Linked DNA regions of Homo sapiens. The protein of the gene in region 2 purifies or fractionates together with the protein of the main gene of each other region. This does not show direct contact. Each region holds a gene or a part of one and is shown on either strand. Other genes may lie near its edges.

Region 1 (2,865 bases), on a different chromosome or scaffold from region 2:
TCCTCCTCCTCCTCTTTATCATCTTGCACTTCAGTAAGTCGCATACTGTAGACCCAAAGGAAAGTAGGGGGCTCAGAGACCCAGATTGCCTGGAGCCCTTGCTGCCCTACTCAGGCTCTGGTAGTACCCACCCTAACACTTCCTCAGAGTGGCAGCATTCCCTTTGGTGCACACGTGCCCCTTACCGCTTTTGGTCCCTTAGACCCTGATGTCCCCTGACTCCTGCCAGCTCCTCTGGATCCAGGTCACTATCCAGAGATGTGTCATCACCGTCGTCCTCAACATCTGACACATAGATATCATCCCTTGGCAGATCGGACAGAAATGTGTCTGCTGCACTCATATCCCCTTGTGTTACTTCCTCTAATAACTGAAGTGTAACAGAAACAAAGGTAAACTATTTAAAAGGAAATATACTGTTTTTTTTTCTGTGTCCCTCACCTCAGTCTATGCTCAGCAACACTAGAAAGAACACTGGCAAATCCATTATCCTTTCACAGATGGGAAAGCTCAGATCCAGGGTAGTGAATGGCCTGTTTACAACATCCCGTTCTAGGCTGGGTTACTGATCTATCCCACTCAGCTGTCTTGTCTCAGTGGTATCACAAATAGGTCTTAAGGAAGGTACCTACAGCCCACATAGCACCAAATCTTAACATATTCTACAACACTGGTTTTCCTTTAAAAATTATTCTCAGACAGCATCTCAATCATCTCCTGAGAATACCGTCTACACAGTTTGTTTCCACTGAATAAAAGGGGCCCAGCCAACATACATCCAACAAAACTGTTCCACTTAAACCAATTGTCAGAACCTTTTATTTTCCTCATGGTAAAGATACTAGGCTGGGTATGGTGGCTCACACCTGTAATCTCAGCATTTTGGGAGGCTGAGGCAGGAGGATTGCTTGATGCCAGGAGTTTGAGGCTGCAGTGAGTCATGATGGCACCACTGAACTCCAGCCTGGGTGACAAAACAAGATCTTGTCTCAAAGGAAAAACTCCAACTACTATTTCTTGAGTGTTTATCACATATGAGGGATTACACCTATCTTTTTTTATTCCTCACCAAAAACTCTAGTAGGTAGGTTCTATTATTGTTTTACAGATGAGGAAACTGAGGCAGCAAGGATAAGTGGTAGTCAGCTCAGTCACTTCACAAAGCTCCAGGTGGTAGAGCTGGGAAGGAAACCTGAGCCTGTGTCTGCTCTAGGGCCACCATGCTCTACTGCCCTCCTGTACAACAAAGATGACCTGATTATGACACTCCCACACATAAGCCACAAAAGTTCATTTTGTTTGTGACCCTGATTTTGTCAGGAAAAACATGTTCTTCAGTATTCAGTGGAAGTACCCTAATGCGAGTGCTCACTTGGTCTCAATGAACTAAAGAATGCTGCTCCCCTCTGAGGGAGATCCTCTATTCATCTGTGCTTGAAACTCAAGTAACCTGGCAGCATCTACTATAACCTAAGTTCTTTTCTGATGTTCTAGTTCTTCAAGAATAAATCTATCAGCCGGGCGCGGTGGCTCACGCCTGTAATCCCAGCACTTTGGGAGGCCGAGGTGGGCAGATCACGAGGTCAGGAGGTCGAGACCATCCTGGCTAACACGGTGAAACCCCGTCTCTACTAAAAATACAAAAAATTAGCCAGGCGTGGTGGTAGGCGCCTGTTGTCCCAGCTACTCGGGAGGCTGAGGCAGGAGAATGGTGTGAACCTGGAAGGTGGAGCTTGCAGTGGGCCGAGATCGTGCCACTGCACTCCAGCCTGGGCAACAGAGCAAGACTCCGTCTCAAAAAAAAAAAAAATAAATCTATCACACTCATCTATCTACCTAACTCATCCTTTTTGGTTTATGTTTCTTTGTGGCCTTATACTCACCAAGGCACCCTGTGGTGAAGACAGCAACCACAGCCTATCGTTCGGCAACCTAAAAAGACATTCAACACCCCCCACCTCCAAACACCCAAACAGATCCTTCTGTCTCCTAAACCTGCACCCCCAATGCCGCCTCACCTGGTGACCCCGGATGGTGCTCAAGGAGAACATGCCAGTCTCCCCCTCGTCTGCAATGGAAACCCCAGGCAGATCCATCTTCAGCTCCACACGCTCCCGCTGCTTTCTCTGCTCACGCAACAGCTTCTTTTTCTTCCTGAGGGGGTGGATTGAGGGAGTAAAACCGGCCCAGCTCCAAAGTTTCTATCCATGCCTTGCATTTTCTTCTCCCATCTTCACACAGTCCCTGCGTTGGGGAACTCCAAGCTCTACCCCAGCTCCTTTCACCTCTTCAATTCCGCCACCTCCTGGGCCTTCATTTCTGCCAAGGTCTGGTTCAGTTGTTCCTCCTCCTCCTCTTCCTCCTCCTCCTTAGAGGGCTGCTTTGTGGTTCCAGCTGTTGAGTCCTCCTCATCACCTTCATCTTCCTCTCCAGAGCTGAGGCTGGCAAAACAGTCCCAAGAGTTGGGTTATTTTCCCAGACTTTTCCCCTGGACACCCAGTCCACACCTGCCTCGCTGCGTTCTCTCCTCACCTGATGTCCAGTGCCTTTGCTTGTTCTTTCAGCTTCTTGGCCACATATCGCCGAAGTTTTGTTCTCCAGTTTAGTAGCGACCTGCCCCAGAGATACTATTACTGATCTTGCCATCTCCCTCTTTGTCCCCGCCCCCTTCTGTTTTAGGCTCACTACCCACCTTTCGGGCTTCGGCTACATAAATCAAAAGGCTCAGGCCCCCATCCCAAACCTTTAGCACAGCAATATCCTCTTCCCAGAGGTCCAACATCATGGCCTTTCCCTGCCTCCAGGGCTCCTGGCCCCCGTGCCTACCCCACTCCATACCTGAGCTCCTTGCGCCCCAACACTCTG
Region 2 (3,500 bases):
TCATTACTCCCTCCACAATCTAGAGGTACTGGTTTATGTAAAAGATCAGACACGTTTTCTCCTGTATTTTACAAAAAAAAAAAAAAAAAAACACATACCTCGGGGGATAAGCACCTCCTCTCATGTTGTAGTTATAGGTGGACTGCATCCGAGAGTAAGGGTCAACAGGCTTATACATTGGTTTTTTTCCAAGTTTCATGCACAGTGCATTTAGTTCTACAGTAGGGGTTATGCTTTCTGCAAGAAAGAATCGACAAAGAACTGTTTTTTTCTGGTATGAGAATGATACTCACTAAAATAAAATGTAATAGCATGCTTTCTGCTAATTGGATTCATGATACTTTACATAAAAGGACCTGGGTGGCTCACTGCTAGGCATCAGACAAGGAAATCCAAGAATATGCTGTGATTTCTAGATATTTATACACAGTCGACAGCACAAAATCTACTCTGAGGGTTACCAGAGGAGCCACAATTTAACCCAAGACATTATCAGTGAAAGCTATATGGTACAGCTGTCAGAAATAAGTTCCAAAACACATCAAATTTCACGATTAAAAAATCCCATGTAAATGTCCAAATTGTTTTACTGTTTGAGAATACTTAATCAATATAACCTTGGTTGTACTGATTTACAGGATTATTGGCTTGCACTCAGAAGTATGTCCGTACACAGTATTGAACGATGCATTTATTACATTACTAACTGGATGCAAAGCACTGTGCTAAGCTTAAGAAACACAATTCCTGGCCAGGCGTGGTGGCTCACGCCTGTAATCCCAGCACTTTGGGAGGCCAAGGCAGGAGGATCACAAGGTCAGGGTATCGAGACCATCTTGGCTAACATGGTGAAACCCTATCTCTACTAAAAAATACAAAAAATTAGCCAGGCATGGTGGCGGGTGCCTGCAGTCCCAGCTACTCAGGAGGCTGAGGCAGAAGAATGGTGTGAACCTGGGAGGCGGACCTTGCAGTGAGGGTGGCTCACACCTGTAATCCCAGCACTTTGGAAGGCCGAGGCGGGTGGATCACCTGAGGTCAGGAGTTCGAGACCAGCCTGGCTAACACGGTGAAACCCCGTTTCTACTAAAAATACAAAAAATTAGCCAGGCATGGTGGCGCATGCCTGTAATCCCATCTACTCAGGAGGCTGAGGCAGGAGAATCGCCTGAACCCAGGAAGCAGAGGTTGCAGTGAGTCGAGATTGCGTCACTGTACTCCAGATGAGGAAACAAGAGCAAAACTCTGTCTTAAAAAAAAAAAAGAAACACAATTCCTGCCCCAGAGGAGTTCAAAAAACACAAAGCACACTCAAAGAGTTACAATACAACATGATGTGCAACTTAAAGGTGAAAAATCAGTGAGGAGGTGGCAACCCAATTCTCTTCACAGAAGTCACACAAGGCCCACAAAATATTCAGGTATTTCCATTCTTGACATTTCTAATGAATTTGACCTGTGGTCATACTTGCTACGAAAATGAGTTCCATTTTCATACACAACAAGTTATCTCAAAATTATCAACTTCAGAAAATACATGCTATTCATTTTCCAATTTTTTTTTCTTTCAGTTCATCCAATCCATAAACCTTTAAAAACCATTTAAAAAGAAAACCAGCCTGGAAAGATTAGTGTCAGTGCACAATATTTAAAAACAACACTTTCATATCAAAAACAGAACACTAGAAATGGCAAAATCTAAATGCACATAAAAATCCACTTTAAAATGCCTCTTTAGGATGTATATAGAGAGAAATAAAAAAGACCTGATTCTGTACTATAACTGGTTCAACTAAATTTAATGCATGAATCAAATCTATAAGAATATCTTTGGGGTTTGCACAGAGGGCCACATGAATTACAGATCTCTCTCTTCCTTGCATTAGAATTATATTTTTTACAAAATTCATATAATTGCATTTTAAGTACAGTCTGAATCATTTTAAGAGCAGCTCTGATCCACAGAATTTGTCTGCAATAGAGAATAAACATGAAGAAAGTATACTGCAAAGAAATCAAAAGTAACAAGAAAGATGTGACTGGTAACTTCCCAGATTCCTTCCTACATACGAAGACCTGGGATGACTTCATGCATGTGAGGGGGTCTCTGCTAAAACAGCCATTAATGACACAGCCTCCAGGTCACTGATCCCCAACCCTTCACCAGCCATGCCTTCTTGATTAGTATGCTCCCTGAATGGGCTCCTTGTCTGAGGAGATACTACCTGCTGGCTTGTATTTAAGTAATATTTACATTTTTCTCATTCTTTTTAATAACTAAGAGACATACAACTGGCAATAAGCACTTCTGACCAACAAAATTACAATCAATATTACCACACTGACTTGATGTGACTCTAAATTAAACTTATATTCTTGCTAATCTATACACTCTTATCAAAAATATATTTTCATTAAACTTCGGAAATCTTTGAAATTATCTGGTCACCCGCCATCCTTCCTATGACCGCCTTTCCAGATTGTCAGGCGTTAAGGCATCATAGATTGGAAACCACTGCTTTACAATGAGGTTAAGGATTCCTAAAAAATAAGCATTTGTCACTGGTAGTGTAGAATCTGTGCTTTCAAAATCAACAAGTTAAGAAACCATTCATATACATACTACATGGTACCTCTAGACACACTTTTGAAAGGTACCTGTTTGGCCCATGCATAAGACCTGGATTCCTTCCTTCGCTACCAAAAGGGCTGACTATGGGCTTAGGAAATTTTGTTCCCTCCAAAGCTTTAGCAGCAGCTGTGTGTTTGACCTTTTTAATACCAGTTCACTCAGCTCCCCATTGCTGATTTCCAAGTGTCAGCAGTACTGTAAATTCCTAGAAATGAAAAGTGTGAGCTCTCAAATTCATGAAACCTGACATTGACTGTAATATGTCACTTGAACCTTGAACACTTTCTATGGTCATGGTTTAAGAGGCCTGGTCTTATCTTGATAATTCATCCTGTCATCCCCTTCTTATCCTTTTTTGTTGTTTTTTATAAACAACAACAAAAAAAAGAGATTGTGTGTGTATGCACTGAAATTTTTTTTTTTTTTTAAGAGACACAGTCTCACTCTGTCCCCAGGTTAGAGTGCAGTGGTGTGATCTTGGCTCAATGCAACCTCCACCTCCTGGGTTCAAGAAATTCTCCTGCCTCAGTCTCCCGAGTAGCTGGGATTACAGGCACCTGCCACCATGCCCGGCTAATTTCTGTACTTTTAGTAGAGACAGGGTTTCACCATGTTGGCCAGGCTGGTCTCGAACTCCTGACCTCAAGTGATCCACCTGCCTCAGTCTCCCAAAGTGCTGGGATTACAGGCATGACCCACCACGTCCAGCCTCAAAATTCTCTTCCAATTACTTCTCATGAAAGATATTTTGCAAACTTGATTTAAACACACAGCAGTACTTCACACAAATTAAGACAATGTTTGTTTTGATGCTGCAATGTGTTTGTGGGCTCTTGTTTGAAAACATAACCACCCTTTTTTTCAGTTT
Region 3 (3,500 bases), on a different chromosome or scaffold from region 2:
AGACAAAGTACCTGTACTTTGCAGGATTATTATGCATACATGGAAATGACCTTCCTATCTCTCCAAAATAAGCTTGAAATTAAAATATGAAAAATTTCACAAAACTTGGGGCAGACAAAATTAAAAAAAAAAAGCTCTAAGTTAAAATTGGTCATCAGGCCAAAGAGCAGGCATATCCTACTAACTTTCGACCAGGAAGATTTGTTCCTAGCTGAAAACATTTTAGCCTCTCTCAGATGAAGATAGTTCTTTCTTCTCCTGTCTATACAGAAAAATTACACATCTCTCTCAATAACACTATTTATCAAACTTCAGTGCAACAAAACAAAAACAAAAACAAGTCCTATTCTTTATACTGCCTAACCTGATGTTTATGTAAGGAAAAAAATATGGAAAGCATGCATTCTTCTATAAAGTACTAATGTTTGACAGGGTTTGCTACATCTTTAACATTTAGTGTTTCCAACTTATCTTCCCTGAACTCTGCATCCAAATATAATATTCCTACCTGCCAAGATATAAAAAAGGCACAGATCATACAACTTTTTTTGCTAATGAAAATGACAAATGTCACATCACACACATTTCAGGGTCCACTAAAATACTGGAAAAGTGGACCAAAACATAAACTGACACAGGACATGAAATGACATAGCATTTCATGAAGACTTCTATACGAGATTGAAAACAGAAGTCTAATATGATTACCATAAATGCTATATATTAAGAAAAACTGAGAATGTACTGGTGAATGATCACCCAATGCAGGAAAATGGTCCAAATTAACAAAGAATATCACTGCTCAGTACTTTAGAAAATAAAACTAAAATCTGCCCTGAAGTGCTAAGTAGTTTTAAAAGCAATGTTTCAAATTTTAAGGTATCTTTTTGTGCAAATCTGAAAATTGTTGCTTATGGCCAATACCAAAAAATAAAAAATTCTTAGCATAATTTGTGTTCATTTCATGCCCTGTGCCATCTTGCCTACTATTTGTCTTTGGCCTAACAAAGTTTTCTAATATGGAATAAGAATTACGGAAATGGTATAGGAAATATAACTTCAGAATTATGCAGTTTAGGGTACTCCATTCACGAGTGGTTGCTGACCATCCACGCTGTCTGGCTTCTCTTTCTTCTGGTTACGATCTTTACCCGTGCGCAGCCGACTACCTTCACTGGAGGTATTCTGTAATGTTTTAGTGTGGACACTCCTTTCATTATTGCAGTCAACTCTGATCTAAAACAAGTTATAGTTGTTATATACACAGACCATATCCTACTGTAATCTGTAATTGGCCTGACAAGAAATTTAAACCTGAAGTGTAAATTCCACATGTTAAAAAGAGAAATGGAGATGAGAACAGAAGAAGTGCAAGAAATTAATGTAAGGTAGGATTCTTTATTTGGTTTATGATTTTAAAACACTCTTCTTCTTTAACTGGAACACACTGGTCATCTCACTGCATCCAAAGTTAGAGAAAAACTCACAATCCTATCATGTCTTCTTCTAAGTAGAATAAAACAGTGAGAAACAAACAGGTAAAATGAATTACTATTACTGATTACCAGAAGACATACATGCCTCTAACACTAGAGTTAAAATAAAATTAGTTATTCTCCAAAGATTGTGAAGCCCAGGAAAAGAGAAACAAAATGTTTTCCTATTCTGGCTTTACCCTCAAATAACTCACTAACTAGACTTTAATTTACATCTTTATATCTATCACAGGTATGATCAAGTTTCTCTATACTGAGAGCTCCCATAGTCATACAGTAGAAAAACACGAGCTTTGGTTTCTACTGGCTTGTATTTCACTAAGAAAATTCAGATGATCCTACAACCTGAACTCTGTCTGAAGAATGGAACAGTATAAAGAAAACTGCATATAATAATTTGTGGAAGGACTGGAATCCTAGGAGAGTATAAAGATCAATGTAATTTAAAAAATAGTGTTCTAAGAGCTATAAAATATTTTAAGTGCCAATGCTGAATACAGCACTGCTAATTCCAGAGGTACAAATGAAAGTTAACAGTGACAAATGGAACTAAAACAACTACAAATATTGATCTACTTCAAGCACAAATGCTAAAAACATCCCCAAATGGTTGTAATTTCAAAGTATGTTTAAGTAGTGGGTATGTGCATGTGTTTTAAATGTCTCGTTACCAAGGATTCAGTACTTTGATTTGTATCTTTTTTTTTTTTTTTCCCAGACAGTCTCGCTCTGTCGCCCAGGCTGGAGTGCAGTGGCGCGATCTTGGCTCACTGCAAGCTCCGCCTCCCAGGTTCACGCCATCCTCCTGCCTCAGCCTCCTGAGTAGCTGGGACTATAGGTGCCCGCCACCATGCCCGGCTAATTTTTTGTATTTTTAGTAGAGATGGGGTTTCACCATGTTAGCCAGGATGGTCTCGATCTCCTGACCTTGTGATCCACCCGCCTTGGCCTCCCAAAGTGCTGGGATTACAGGCGTGCGCCACCGTGCCTGGCCCTTTTTTTTTTTTTTTGAGATGGTGTTTTGCTCTTGTTGCTCAGGCTGGAGTGCAATGGCAAGATCTTGGCTCACTGCAACCTCTGCCACCTGGGTTCAAGCGATTCTCCTGCCTCAGCCTCCCGAGTAGCTGAGATTACAGGTGCCCGCCAACACGTCTGGCTAATTTTTTGTATTTTTAGTAGAAATGGGGTTTCACCATGTTAGCCAGGCTGGTCTCGAACTCCTGACCTCAGGTGATCTGACCACCTTGGCCTCCCAAAGCGCTGGGACTACAGGCGTGAGCACCGCGCCTGGCCAGATTTGTATCTATTTTCATACTTAATAGAGAAAACATCACCTTTTAAATTCAGTATTCCATTTCATTTAGAAATATAAATGTGCATCCTTTTAACCAATGCAGTTAGACTGCCAAGTTCATCAAACATATCAGTTTAAGTGGAAAATTACAAAACGGGTACTTAAATATCTTATAGCTTTGTAAAAGACAGGTACATACAGTAATTTACCAATCTATCTATCCCTTGGACATGCTGGTCCTTAAGAACCCACCAATAGTTAACACTTACTTTGAGCTGCTATGAATTCCAAGAAATATTCCATCATAAACTTTGTCTTAAAAAGTATCTCTCACTAATCTTGGGTGATGGTCCCAAATGAATCCATAGTCAGGAAGGAACCCTAACTACTTAATAATTAAAAGTTACAGAAAAAGTAGACGACAACATAGATTCAGAGAATCAGACACTAAGGTTTGACTATCATTTGGACATATGCTAGCTATGTGACTGTGGGCAAAGGACTGAAGCTACAGTGCACTCACCTATAAAGTGGAATAATAAAACTACCTCAGTGGGTTGCTGTAAGATTAAATGAGATAAAACATACACAAAGCACTTAGCAAAGGTGCCTGGATGTGCTCAGGAGATAATTTTAAAATTATTTAACAATTGGTTTAGCACTGGTGACAGCCAATTGAGAAGAGATCCTCGGACTAGGTCCTGGCTGTA
Region 4 (3,500 bases), on a different chromosome or scaffold from region 2:
ATGAAAGGTGTGTATATGCTGAGGGTTTCTTGTGTCAGAGAAATGAAAGTAATGCCGACTCCTCAGGGCTCTGAGGATTGTGAGATGGTGCATGGAAAGCATCCAGGACAAGGAAAGAGTAATCAATGGTAGCTACTGTCAGCTTGCAGAACAGACATCACTCCTACAGCACCTAGTTTTCAAAAGAGGATTTCACTGATCACTTATACTGTTCTCATCTAAGGGAAAACTCTTGTCTTAGCTACTTGGTTAACTTTGTGCTTGATTTGTTGTAATAAGAGATGATACAGATGACAAGATTATATAAGAAGCCCTGAGCTAATGATAAGAAGTATCTTACTCTCTTACTCTCTACTTGAGACAGCAGAGACTCATCATTCACCCATGAATTCTAGTATTTAAAGTTAAGTCTTTTTTGTTCAACATGCACCTTAAACATAGCCAAGTTAGTCATCTGGTGCTCAGCTGAAGCAGCAGCAATCTGTTCCAAAGCTGGAGGGAAAAAGTGACTATAGTTGGAGTTATTAAGAGATAGGTGTAATGCTGTTCTTAATAGGTAGGGTACGGCACCTTCCAGGCTACTGACCACAGACAATAGTTGTCTTGCATGCTGCTTTCAGTTCCTCACTCCTATGTCAGATGACTCAACTGTAATCAAATACCAGGTCTGCCCAGGACGTGCCTGCTTACAGCTGTAACACCTTTATCATCGCTTTTATTATCAACATTCCTACGACTGTGCCTCAGAAAGGCCACAGCCCCTAACCCCCGGTACTATTAAAACAACTGTCCACACAGTGTCATGTTGCATCACGCAAGGTCCCGGCTCCTTAAGAGAGGAAGTACTGCAGTAGAGAAGGCAGTCTTGTTCTGCGACTTGCGAACTAAGTGCAGGCCAGGCATGGTGGCTCACGCCTATAATCCCAGCACTTTGGAAGGCCAAGGTGGGCGAATCATTTGAGGTCGGGAGTTGGAGACCAGCCTGGCCAACGTGGCGAAACACCATCTCCACTAAAAAATACAAAAATTAGCTGAGCATGGTAGCAGGCGTCTGTAATCTCAGCTACTCGGGAGGCTGAGGCAGGAGAATCGCTTGAACCTGGGAGGCGGAGGTTGGAGTGGGCCGAGATTGTGCCACTTGCACTCCAACCTGGGCAACAGAGCAACTCTGTCTCAAAACAAATAAAAAACAAAAAGATAAAGTAAATGCAGAAACAAAGGTCTCTGTTTGACAGGCTCATAGTGGACATATTTCACTCGGACCTGAATGCTTAACTCCACACAAAGCTCCAGGTGCCCTAGGAGGGAAAAACAGGAGGAGGAGAAATCCCAGGGAGTGTATAAGGAGCCACTGGGAGGGAGCTTGGTGCTTACCTTGTTTGCACACTGCTTACACTGCTTCTCATCCAAGCAGTCACCTGCCACCTTGGCCAGGACAGGATCCAGGGGGTTATCCTTCAGGTCCAACCACTTCAGGTTCTAAAGAGATGGGCGATGGGCAAAGAGGCTCATTAAGCCCGAGTTCACATACATAGTCCCTCAGGGTGAAACAAAATGAGCAGGAAGAATGCCCCTCTGTGTTCCACATATAGGGAGCGCCATCTGAGGCAGGACCAACAAGGGGGTATTTCTGTCAGCCTTTCTCAGGGCCGTGCTCCAGAGTCCCTGAGTTCTCTGCCACCCTGGCCATGAAACACTGGTTCATGAATTGTTACCTTGAGCTGAGCAAAGCTGACAGGCAAGGTGACCAGCTTGTTGTTGAGGAGATCCAGGTGCTGGAGGTTGACCAGACGGCCAAAGTCTGCTGGCAGCTGCTGCAGCTTGTTCTTACTCAGGTCTAGCTTCACCAGGTGTGTGAGGCCACAGAAATCCGACTAGGATCCAAAGAGAGAACCTAAGCTAGGCTTGTCCAACACACGAGCCACGACAGCTTTAAATGTGGCCCAATACAAATTTGTAACCTTTCTTAAAACATTACGAGATTTTTTTTCCTTTTTCAGCTCATCAGTGTATTTCATGTGTAGCCCAAGACAACTCTTCTTCTTCCAATGTGGCCCAGGGAAGCCACAAGATTGGAAACTCCTCATCTAAGCCTTGGGCTCACACACTTCGGTGTAACAGTCTGGAAGCCCTCAAGTCAGAGGTACCCCATGTAAAAATCCTGGCTCTACTGTTAGCAGCCGTTCTTCCTCAAATGAAAATGCAGAGAACACCTACCACACCTGGTGATAATTACCAAGATATGTATGGAAAAGGGCTTAGCACAAAGTAGGCACAAAACACTATTCCTTCACCCTCAGTTCTTGCTCCAGCCTACCCTCCACACTGCTCCTGGAGAGGTGTGGTTACCCATTCTGTCCTTCCACAGCACCCTATGCTCACCATTCATAGGATCTGTCAAAACAGCGTGCTCGTTCATTTTCTTAAAAAGATCAGGCACTCCTGGAGTACTCAGTCTGATTCTTGTTATTTGCAGCACCTAGCACAGTACTTAACACAGGTGCTCAACAGACATTCTGTGAATAACTAACTGAACGGGCTGGGGTCCATCCTACCCAAGTCCTGGCTCTTTCTCAACACAGGTCAAAACATCCCCCTGACATTAAACCTTTGCTAAGCACCCATCTGAAAGCGATGGTACAACCTCAGCTAATGAGGCACTATTCATGCTCTCTAGGGACTTGGAAATGCCAGTGGATCTGAAATGCAGAGTGAAATGGAAGTTGTCAGTACAGACAACAGAACAAGCTCAGATCGAAAAGTGCACTTGGCTGAATGACCATCTGGCAAAGTGTACAGAAGGAGTGCGGCTGCAAGGAATTGCTAACCTGCTTTTATTTTTAATTTTTTAGAGGCGGGATCTTGCTATGTTGTCCAGGCTGCTCTCAAACTCCTGGGCTAAGTGATTCTCCCACCTCAGCCTCCTGAGTTACTGGGATTATAGGCATGAACCACAGCTCCCAACATATTCTTCTTTTATTCAACACAAAATACTTTCTGGAAGAAGTGAGATCTCGATGCTTTTTGAATGTTAGAAACAGTTTTTGATGAGCTGTGACAAGGTACTGTGGACGATGAGCAAGGCCTAGGAGAATACTGAGAGGTGAGTGGACTAATAATCCAATGAGGACATTGCCAACTTCTGAATTCGACCTCTGAGCCACAGCCAGGGCCAAATAGGAAGTCACCCTGGAGTACAGCAAGGAGTGGCACGGCTAGAGTGATGGGTGGAAGTGGCAATAGCACACTTAGGCCTGACGGTGCAGGAGCACTACTATGTCAGAGAGGCTGAGGGGCTGAATGAATCCACTGTCTACACAGGTGGAGTGGAAGGAAAACTAGCAGACGTTGTGCAAGAAAAATAAAAAGGATTTGATCATGGATTGAATGTGCTGACCACATTGAGCAAATCTCAACTAATTCAAGTCCTTTGGGAGAATAATGATAAGGTAGCCCATAAAATCACCTTCTTTCTTGCTCCCCATCAAAAGATGCACAAG
Region 5 (3,500 bases), on a different chromosome or scaffold from region 2:
GAGAGATTCAAAGCATGAGAGACATCCAACCTGCTGTCTCTGACTTGAAGACAGCCATGAGCCAGGGAATGCAGGTGGCCTTTGGAAAGGGAGAATTCTTAGCCCACAGCAAATAAGGAAAGGAACTCCTGCAACTGCACGGAACTGAATTCTTGAACAATCTGAATGAGTCTAGAAACATGTTCTCTCACTAGAGCCTCTAAAAAAGAACAGCCCTACCGACACAGATTCCAGCCTGGTGAGACTCTAAGCAGAGGAACCAGATGAAGCATCCTGTAACTGGATTTCTGACCTAAAGAACTGTGAGATAATAAATGTGTGTTGTTTTAAGCCATTCAGTTTGTGGTGATTCACAGTAGCAACAGAAAATTATACACTGAGGGCCAGGCACAGTGGCTCATGCCTGTAATCCCAGAACTTTGGGAGGCTGAGGCAGGCGGATAACCTGAGGTCAGGAGTTCAAGACCAGCCTGGCCAACATGGTGAAACCCCATCTCACTAAAAATACAAAAATTAGCCAGGCACGGTGGCGGGCACCTGTAATCCAGCTACTTAGGAGGCTGAGGCAGGAGAATCACTTGAGCCCAGGAGGCGGAGGTTGCAGTGAGCCAAGATCGCACCACTGCACTCCAGCCTGGGCAACAGAGTGAGACTCTGTCTCAAGAAAAAAAAAAAGAAAGAAAATTATACATTGAGTTAAGCAAAGATTTCTTAGATATAAAAAAGCATTATCCATAAATGAAAAAATACATAAACTATATCAAAATTTAAAACTCTGTTCTTCAAAAGACAATGTTAAAAAAAAGATAAAGAACTTGTATCCGGAATGATAAAAAAACCCAGAATATATCCCAAACTTAATAAGACAACAAAAATCTTCCCCTCAAAATGAACAAAGGATTTGAACAGACACTTCATTAAAGACATACAAATCACCATGGTGTAAGCACATGCAAAGATGGTCAACAAGATTAAGCATCGTTAGTCATTAGGGAAATGAAAATTTAAACCACAGTTAAGTACTACTACGTACCTATTAGAATGGATCAAAAAATAAAATTGATAATAATAAATGTAGACAAGGATGCAAAGCAACTGGAGTGCTCATACTTCGCTGGGGGAATGCAAAATGGCACAGCCACTTTAGGAAACAATGCAGCAGTTTCTTATGAAGTTAAATATACATTAATCATATGACCCAGAAATCTCATTCCTAAGTATTTACCCAAGGGAAATTAAAATTTATTTTCACATAAAAACCTTTTTTGCCAGGTGCAGTGGCTCATGCCTGTAATCCCAGCATTCTGGGAGGCCAAAGCAGGCAGATCACTTTAGCCCAGGAGTTCAAGATCAGCCTGGCCAACATGGCGAACACCCATCTCTACTATAAATACAAAAATTAGCTGGGTGAGGTGGCACTCGCCTATAATCCCAGCTACTTGGGAGGCTGAGGTGGGAGGATGGCTTGAGCCCGGGAGGCAGAGGTAGCAGTGAGCCAAGGTGGCGCCACTGCACTCCAGCCTGGGCAAAAGAGCAAGACCCTGTTTCAAAAAAACAAAACACAACAATCTTTTCATTTTTTGTTTTTGAGTCAGGGTCTTGCTCTGTCACCCAGGCTGGAGTGCAGTGGCACCATCTCGGCTCACTGCAATCTCCGCCTCCTGGGCTCAAACCATCCTCCCGCCTCAACCTCCCAAGTAGCTGGGACTACAGGCGTGCACCACCCACACCCAGCTAATTTTTGTATTTTCTGTAGAGATGGGGTTTCACCATGTTGCCCAGCTGGTCTCGAACTCCTGAGCTCAAGCAATCCACCTGCATCAGCCTCCCAAAGTGCTGGGATTACAGGCATGAGTCATTGTGCCCAGCCCAAAAACCTTTGTGAATGTTTATAGCAGCTTTATTCGTAATCATCAAAAACTAGAAACAACCAAATGTTCTTCAACTGGTAAGCAGATAAACGACAAACTTGAAACATCCATATAATGAAATCCTAGTCAGAAAAAAAAAGGAATAAACTAATGATACATGCAACACATGGATGAATCACAAATGGATTATGGTAAATGAAAGAAGTCAGACTGAAAGGCTACATGCTGTATGATTCAATTTATATGACATTCTGAAAAGGGTAAAACTATAGGGTCAGAAAATAAATCAGTGGTTGCCAGAGGCTGTAGCTGGAGGAAAAGGCTGACTAAAGGGACACAAGTCAACTTGAGGTAGTGATGGAATTGTAAAACATCTTTTTTTTGTTTGTTTTGAGACAGAGTCTCACTCTGTCACCCAGGCTGGAATGCAGTGGTATGATCACAGCTCTGCAGCCTCAACCTTCTGGGCTCAAGTGATCCTCCCACCTCAGTTTCCCAAGTACTTGGGACTACAGGTGTACACCACCATGCCTGGCTTATTTTTTCATTTTTTGTAGAGACAGGGTCTCACTATGTAGCCCAACCTAGTCTCAAACTCCTGGACTCAGGCAATCCACCCACCTCAGCTTCCCAAAGTGCTGGGATTACAGGTGTGAGCTAAGGCACCCCGCCTAGTCTATGTGTTGAGTGTGATAGTGGTTACATGACTGTATACATGTGTCAAAACTCTTATAATTATGCACTAAAATGGTAAACATTACTATGTGTAAATTGTATCTTAACAAATGACTCTAAAAAAAAAGAAACCACAGGGTGGGAAACCTTGGAAATGTAATGAGAACAAAAAAATTTAAACCAAAAAAATGAGAGGAACCAGCTGGACAGATGCCCATAAAAGCTCTAGCTATGGGGGAATGCCTTTAGTTTTAAAAGTATAACAATGGGGCTGGGCACAGTGGCTCACGCCTATAATCCCAGCACTTTGGGAGGCCGAGGTGGGCAGATCACCTGAGATCGGGAGTTCGAGACCAGCCTGGCCAACATGGTGAAACCCCGTCTCTAATAAAAATACAAAAATTAGCTGGGCGTGGTGGCACGCACCTGTAATCCCAGCTACTCGGGAAGCTGAAGTAGGAGAATTGCTTGAACCCAGGAGGCGGAGGTCACAGTGAGCCAAGATTGCTCTACAGCACTCCAGCCTGGGCAACAGAGGGAAAGTCTGTCTCAAAAATATATAAATACATAAATTAATTAATTAATTAATTAAATAATGGGCTGAGCAGGGTGGCTCGCACCTATAATCCCAGCACTTTGGGAGGTCAAGGTAAGAGGATCACTTGAGGCCAGGAGTTTGCGACTGGCCTGTGCTACATAATGAGACCCCCGTCTCTACAAAAAATTAAAAACGAAGAATTAGCTGGGCATGTGACGCAAGCCTGTAGTCCTGGCTACTTAGGAGCCTGAGGCAAGAAGATGGCTTGAGCCCAAGAGTTCGAGGCTGCAGTGAGCTATGATCCCACCACTGCACTCTAGCCTGAGACAGCAAGATCTTGTCTCTTGAAGAAAAAAAAAAAAAAAAATATACACACACACACACTATATAAAAATATATAAGATATAAAATATATA
Region 6 (3,500 bases), on a different chromosome or scaffold from region 2:
TTTGCAAAAGCATTATATATAACTTTTAACAAATGAGGATATCCATCTATCCCCTGAGGACTGCACTTAATAGGAGAAGGTGGCCCCACACTGCGTCAGTTTAGATGACAGGCGAGTTTGGTTTTGCATGCTTCAAAGCTGACCAAACCAACTTTGCCCCTGTGTTACCGTATCAAACTCAATTACAAATGTCAACCAAAATCCCTTCCAATCTGATAATACATCAGTGGAAATGCAATTCATGTGTATTAACTATGTCATTCTTTATATGATCTGACTGCATGGAATTGTTAGTTATCACCTCCCCAGAATTCAATAAATCTTGTATTAGAGACTTGTTGCTTCTACTTTCTCCAGACTGTTAAGAGAAGGGAGGAAGAGTAACATCTCACGTTTCTATGAAATTTTTTTGCAACATTCTTTCACTTACTATCTATTCAATCTCATTATGAGACAGGACATGTGAAAGTATTGTTAATCCCATTACACAGATAATGTAACAGGCTTTAAAGTTAGGTGACTTGCCCAAGGTCACACAGTTAGTAAGGAGACTTTCTAAACCCAGGTATTGGGTCTCCAAATCCCATGTTCACTCCAAATCTCAGCTATATCCATTACAGGATCACTCATGCATTTCCATTGCAGAGGAGACAGGACAATCAACGAATCTGAGGCCAATTAAGTGAAGCTGCCCAGAACTGCAGTCTCCCTGATACACCACTAAGACCTGAGCAGCCAAAGTCCCAAGAAACAACTACATGTTGAAACCACTTCCAAAAAAATGAAAGCATATTGGTGGCACCTTGTGAATCAGTACAACTGGGTGAGTTGAGTCAAATAATTGATCTCATCTGTCATCTAAACTGTCACATAGTTTTCATACCTTTCAGATATAGCCAACTATCAATTACCTGCAGTCATAGGGGATAGCAGAATTATGGATAATTAAAATCCCAACTCTTTATTTTTATCAACATCTCCACCCCTGCCCCAACCCCAACCCTTAAGGGTTGCCAACAGGCAACAAGACCGAGAAACTTTGCTGTCTCTTGTTCCTAAGTCTACACATTCTTTTGAACATGCAGAAGGGGAGTAAGGAACAGTTGAGCTGTGTTCTTCCAAACAAGAATACCAATTTTATAAAACATCTACTTTAAAACAACATTTTGTCTGAAGTAGTCCTGTATTTATTTACATTTAGAATTTAAATGATTCCATAATTACATTTGACCCTGAACTACCTGATTGGGTTTGGGTGTACTAGAAATTGATATAGCTTCCTCCTTGTCATCAAATACTGTGTAGGACACTTCAGTGAGCTACAAAGCACCAACCTATGACAGCCCTTCCTATGAAACATGCTGCCATAAAAGCTAGTATCTAATTAAATGTGAGTATGGATATTAACTTTTAGGTCTTTTGATTTCTGGATTATAGTACAAAAAAGTAGTTATGGTCTCTAATTTTAATACAAGTTGACAATATTTCAAAAGCCTTAGTGAGAAAACTGATAGCACAAACATATTTTTTCCTACTCATTTCGTATCTGTGAGGATAAGTACATTCAATGTAGCCTACAGCATATCTAAATTTGAAGTATTAACATACACTTGGCAGTGGTTTACATTAGTAATAATCTTAATTCCTGAATGTGCAAACATTTTCCCTAAATGATACTTAGGGAGAAAGTTCACTATGCAGTACTCATCAGTACTCATCCTATGTTAACAGTTTTCTCTTCCCAAATCACTGGAAGCCAATCTAAAAATTATTTAATGAGCAGCTGCCAACCTTGTCACACTTCCCCCCACTTAACCTTAAACTAGTGAAATTTTTTCATTTTCCAAGCCAGCCAAAACTCTCCAAAGGTTTAAAAAAAAAAAAAACCCAATACCCATTCAAAGTGATTTAAAGTAAGCAGAAGGCTCTTTATGCTACTTTTCAAGTACTCACTTCAATTACTATGTTTTGCAGGTCTGTCTTATTTACCCTTGATTATGGAGATTTGTCCCTACAGGTACACCTAAAAGCCTTTGAAAACTTCTTGCCAAAGTTTCTGTGTATTTATAGCAACATTATTTGTTCAACTTTAGAATCATGGAATAATCTGTTCATCTGAAATTAGGTATAAATATTTAATGCAGTGAGTTTGACTCAACATTTGAGAAAGCCACAGCTGTTGACAAAATTCCAATTTGAAATGTCTAGGATAATTAAGTCAACTCTAACACATTTCCACGTATACATTTTTAAGCATGCTACTACTCCTGTCGTAAGTAAATAAACTGGTGGTTGGACTTAACCTTTTATAAGGAACAAAAGCTGAGAACATATCTAACCTTTTCTTCTTACAATCCTTGAATCAGAAGTGCAAATATCTACACAAGCACTCACCTGGTGTACAAATACATCTTCCTTGGTGTCATTCCTGCAAGACAGAACCAAGTTGAACAAGTTAGAAAATGAAATAAATCTCATGTTGTCAAAGATTAATTTTCCCAGAGACTCTCTGGCTGCCAATTAGGTACCAGGAAATTTGGCAAAAATCAAAAAACACAAGCCACCATGCTCTCTGCTTTCAAGACTTCAGCAGTTGCAAACAGTTGTAGCCTCATTACCCGTAAGATAGGCAAAAAAAAAAAAAAGTCTAAGAAATTAAAGTGTGACCTACTGAGCCATAATTAAGAGGGTAGCAATGACTAGCAAAATATATTCTGCCCCTCCTTATCCTATTAAACATTAACTGTTCTAGCACACCCTCCTCTTACCTCTAGAGCATGGTTACCAACAGAAGTAGTAGTTACATTCTCACCTTATCCTGCATCTCCCAACTACCAACTTTCCTTGAGATCATAAAAATGAGAACCCCCCTCCCCACCAACAGAATGTATAACGCAAAGAGTGAAACCTAATGGGAACTGTGACCTTTGGGTGATAAGGTATGTTTGAATGTAAGAAAAGCCCAGTTATAAAAGCTACTCCACAAGTCCAGACAAGGACTGATGAAGGTTTAGACCACGGAGCCATGTATAAAAAGACATTTGAGATCTCTTTTTGAGGCAAAATGAGAAACTTTGTGGATGACTGGATGTCAGAAGCGAGGGGGTAGAGAATAATCTCACTTTTTAGCCTGGATATTGGGATTAAGGTGATAACACGAGGAGCAAGAATCACCACTGGAGAAGGAAACGGATTTCCAGGCCTGCAGTGGCCTGCCTCACCCTCTTTACTCCGTCAGGTCAGAGTGAGAAAAAGCTCAGTAGTAGCTCTAGCGTTTAATGACAAAGGGAACAAAGGTTACAATGAACTGGACAAACTGGCTTACTGACTGTTAGCTTCTTGCTGAACTGGGGGCAACATATGCATCAAAGGATCCACATAAAATTAACTTTAAATCTGACCTGTAAATTATAGCTTGGATTATTATAAGAACATTTTTAATTGATGGGAACAGGATAATTAAAAAAACAGAACAGGTAAACTGTAAAAGCGACTTAAGG
Region 7 (2,170 bases), on a different chromosome or scaffold from region 2:
GCTACAAGAAGACCAAGGAAGCTGTTTTGCTCCTTAAGAAACTTAAAGCCTGGAATGATATCAAAAAGGTCCGTTCAATGAGCACATTTACAGTTTGGTACTCCTTGTTCACAGTTTGTCACTTTGAATTTCAGAAGATAAGGGCAGTATAGCTAATCCTTAATGTGTGAGAGAACAAGAACCTCAGAGCCCGATTACTTGGGTTTGAATCCTAACTGCTGTTTATGGCTCTGTGTAACCTTGGCAAGTTATTGTGCCCAGTTTAATCATCTGTAAAAAGGAATTAAAACTCTGAAGATCTATTGCAGAGATTCTATCTTAATCAGAATACTAAAACTGCTCACTTTGTAGGTCTATGCCTCTCAGCGAATGAGAGCTGGCAAAGGCAAAATGAGAAACCGTCGCCGTATCCAGCGCAGGGGCCCGTGCATCATCTATAATGAGGATAATGGTATCATCAAGGCCTTCAGAAACATCCCTGGTAATTAAACTGCTTACATATATTGACTAGGTATACTCTGCAAGTCTACTCAGCTTTTGTTATGATGAGATTCCACTTAAGGTCCGTGTTTCTGAAACAAATGATTTTGTGGAAGTTCTGATTTATGGCTGAAAGAGTTGCACCATTGATGGTTGAAACTTCATAATTAATAAGTTCTCAGGTACCTTTTATAGCTCTTAAGCCATAAAGATGATTTGTGTTTCTTTTGTTGGAATACAGGCTCCCTAATTTTTCTTTCCCTTTAAAAGGAATTACTCTGCTTAATGTAAGCAAGCTGAACATTTTGAAGCTTGCTCCTGGTGGGCATGTGGGACGTTTCTGCATTTGGACTGAAAGTGCTTTCCGGAAGTTAGATGAATTGTACGGCACTTGGCGTAAAGCCGCTTCCCTCAAGAGTAACTACAAGTAAGTATCTTTCATATACTAAGCACAGATGTTTATATTGTGGATATTAACATTCAGAATTGGCTTACATGTTTTCTAAATTTATTCCCATTTCCCCTTATGTGCAGCAACAGTATGCCAAAATGAGACTCACCTGGTCTATATTTTTGGTTTTTTGTTTTGTTTTTGAGACAGAGTTGTTCTGTCTCACCCACGCTGGAGTGTAGTGGTGTGATCGTGGCTTACTGCAGCCTCCGCCTCCCGGGTTCAAGCAGTTCTCCTGTCTCAGCCTCCCAAGTACCTGGGACTACAGGCTTGTGCCACCACACCCGGCTAATTGTAGAGTTGGGGTTTTACCATGTTGGCCAGGCTGGTCTGGAACTCCTGACCTTAGGTGATCCACCCGCCTCGGCCTCCCCAAGTGCTGGGATTATAGGGGTGAGCCACCACACCCGGCCTGGTCCATGTTTATGAGAAGTGATAGTGTAGTAGATATTTTGGAGAGCATAGTGGCTAAAAATAAAGCTTCAGTTGAGCTTCCTGTTCTTTGGTTGATTACTTTTACATGTACATGTCAATCTTTTCCCTTTCAGTCTTCCCATGCACAAGATGATTAATACAGATCTTAGCAGAATCTTGAAAAGCCCAGAGATCCAAAGAGCCCTTCGAGCACCACGGTAAAGTGATACTTAGAGTGTAATTCTCGCCCCAACCCTATACTATTGGTTGTTTCAAAAATTTGTATGTGTATAATGTTAAGTAAAATGTTGATACAGTATCTGCTTTTTTATAGCAAGAAGATCCATCGCAGAGTCCTAAAGAAGAACCCACTGAAAAACTTGAGAATCATGTTGAAGCTAAACCCATATGCAAAGACCATGCGCCGGAACACCATTCTTCGCCAGGCCAGGAATGTGAGTGGAGTTTTTGTTTGTTTGTTTGTTTTTGAGTCGGAATCTCGCTCTGTCACCCAGGCTGGAGTGCAATGGCGTGATCTCAGCTCACTGCAACCTCCACCTACCAAGTTCAAGCAGTTCTTCTGTCTCAGCCTCCCAAGTAGCTGGCACTACAGGCGCACGCCACCATGTCCGGCTAATTTTTGTATTTTCAGTAGAGACGGGGTGTCACTATATTGTTAGGCTGGTCTCAAACTCCTGACCTCAGGTGATTCACCTGCCTCGGCCTCCCAAAGTGCTGGGATTACAGGCGTGAGCCACCGTGCCCGGCTGGTTTGTTTTGTTTTTGTTTTTCTCTTCCTGATACATTAAGTTCTTACAGGGATTT

What was found.
Region 1: the proteins of STAU1 (region 2) and FTSJ3 purify together in Homo sapiens (affinity purification with mass spectrometry; 3 studies listed by BioGRID and IntAct, with this or other methods). This does not show direct contact.
Region 3: the proteins of STAU1 (region 2) and FMR1 purify together in Homo sapiens (affinity purification with western blotting; 3 studies listed by BioGRID and IntAct, with this or other methods). This does not show direct contact.
Region 4: the proteins of STAU1 (region 2) and LRRC59 purify together in Homo sapiens (affinity purification with mass spectrometry; 3 studies listed by BioGRID). This does not show direct contact.
Region 5: the proteins of STAU1 (region 2) and ZNF512 purify together in Homo sapiens (affinity purification with mass spectrometry; 3 studies listed by BioGRID and IntAct, with this or other methods). This does not show direct contact.
Region 6: the proteins of STAU1 (region 2) and YBX1 purify together in Homo sapiens (affinity purification with mass spectrometry; 3 studies listed by BioGRID and IntAct, with this or other methods). This does not show direct contact.
Region 7: the proteins of STAU1 (region 2) and RPL4 purify together in Homo sapiens (affinity purification with mass spectrometry; 3 studies listed by BioGRID and IntAct, with this or other methods). This does not show direct contact.

The regions. Positions count from the first base shown.
Region 1 is NC_000017.11:63,821,799-63,824,663, forward strand, and holds part of FTSJ3 (pre-rRNA 2'-O-ribose RNA methyltransferase FTSJ3), read right to left. Parts: coding exon 2,839-2,865; intron 2,614-2,838; coding exon 2,533-2,613; intron 2,442-2,532; coding exon 2,286-2,441; intron 2,155-2,285; coding exon 2,019-2,154; intron 965-2,018; coding exon of another isoform or gene 875-964; exon of another isoform or gene 791-874; intron 371-790; coding exon 186-370; intron 46-185; coding exon 1-45.
Region 2 is NC_000020.11:49,153,835-49,157,334, forward strand, and holds part of STAU1 (double-stranded RNA-binding protein Staufen homolog 1), read right to left. Parts: intron 238-3,500; coding exon 99-237; intron 1-98. UniProt on the Homo sapiens protein: Binds double-stranded RNA (regardless of the sequence) and tubulin.
Region 3 is NC_000023.11:147,946,419-147,949,918, reverse strand, and holds part of FMR1 (fragile X messenger ribonucleoprotein 1), read right to left. Parts: intron 1,237-3,500; coding exon 1,075-1,236; 3' UTR 1-1,074.
Region 4 is NC_000017.11:50,391,024-50,394,523, forward strand, and holds part of LRRC59 (leucine-rich repeat-containing protein 59), read right to left. Parts: intron 1,875-3,500; coding exon 1,716-1,874; intron 1,480-1,715; coding exon 1,375-1,479; intron 1-1,374.
Region 5 is NC_000002.12:27,603,542-27,607,041, reverse strand, and holds part of ZNF512 (zinc finger protein 512), read right to left. Parts: intron 1-3,500. UniProt on the Homo sapiens protein: May be involved in transcriptional regulation.
Region 6 is NC_000001.11:42,692,418-42,695,917, reverse strand, and holds part of YBX1 (Y-box-binding protein 1), read right to left. Parts: intron 2,429-3,500; coding exon 2,395-2,428; intron 1-2,394. UniProt on the Homo sapiens protein: DNA- and RNA-binding protein involved in various processes, such as translational repression, RNA stabilization, mRNA splicing, DNA repair and transcription regulation.
Region 7 is NC_000015.10:66,499,686-66,501,855, reverse strand, and holds part of RPL4 (large ribosomal subunit protein uL4), read left to right. Parts: coding exon 1-68; intron 69-351; coding exon 352-481; intron 482-537; exon of another isoform or gene 538-604; intron 605-750; coding exon 751-907; intron 908-1,479; coding exon 1,480-1,563; intron 1,564-1,679; coding exon 1,680-1,800; intron 1,801-2,170. UniProt on the Homo sapiens protein: Component of the large ribosomal subunit. The ribosome is a large ribonucleoprotein complex responsible for the synthesis of proteins in the cell.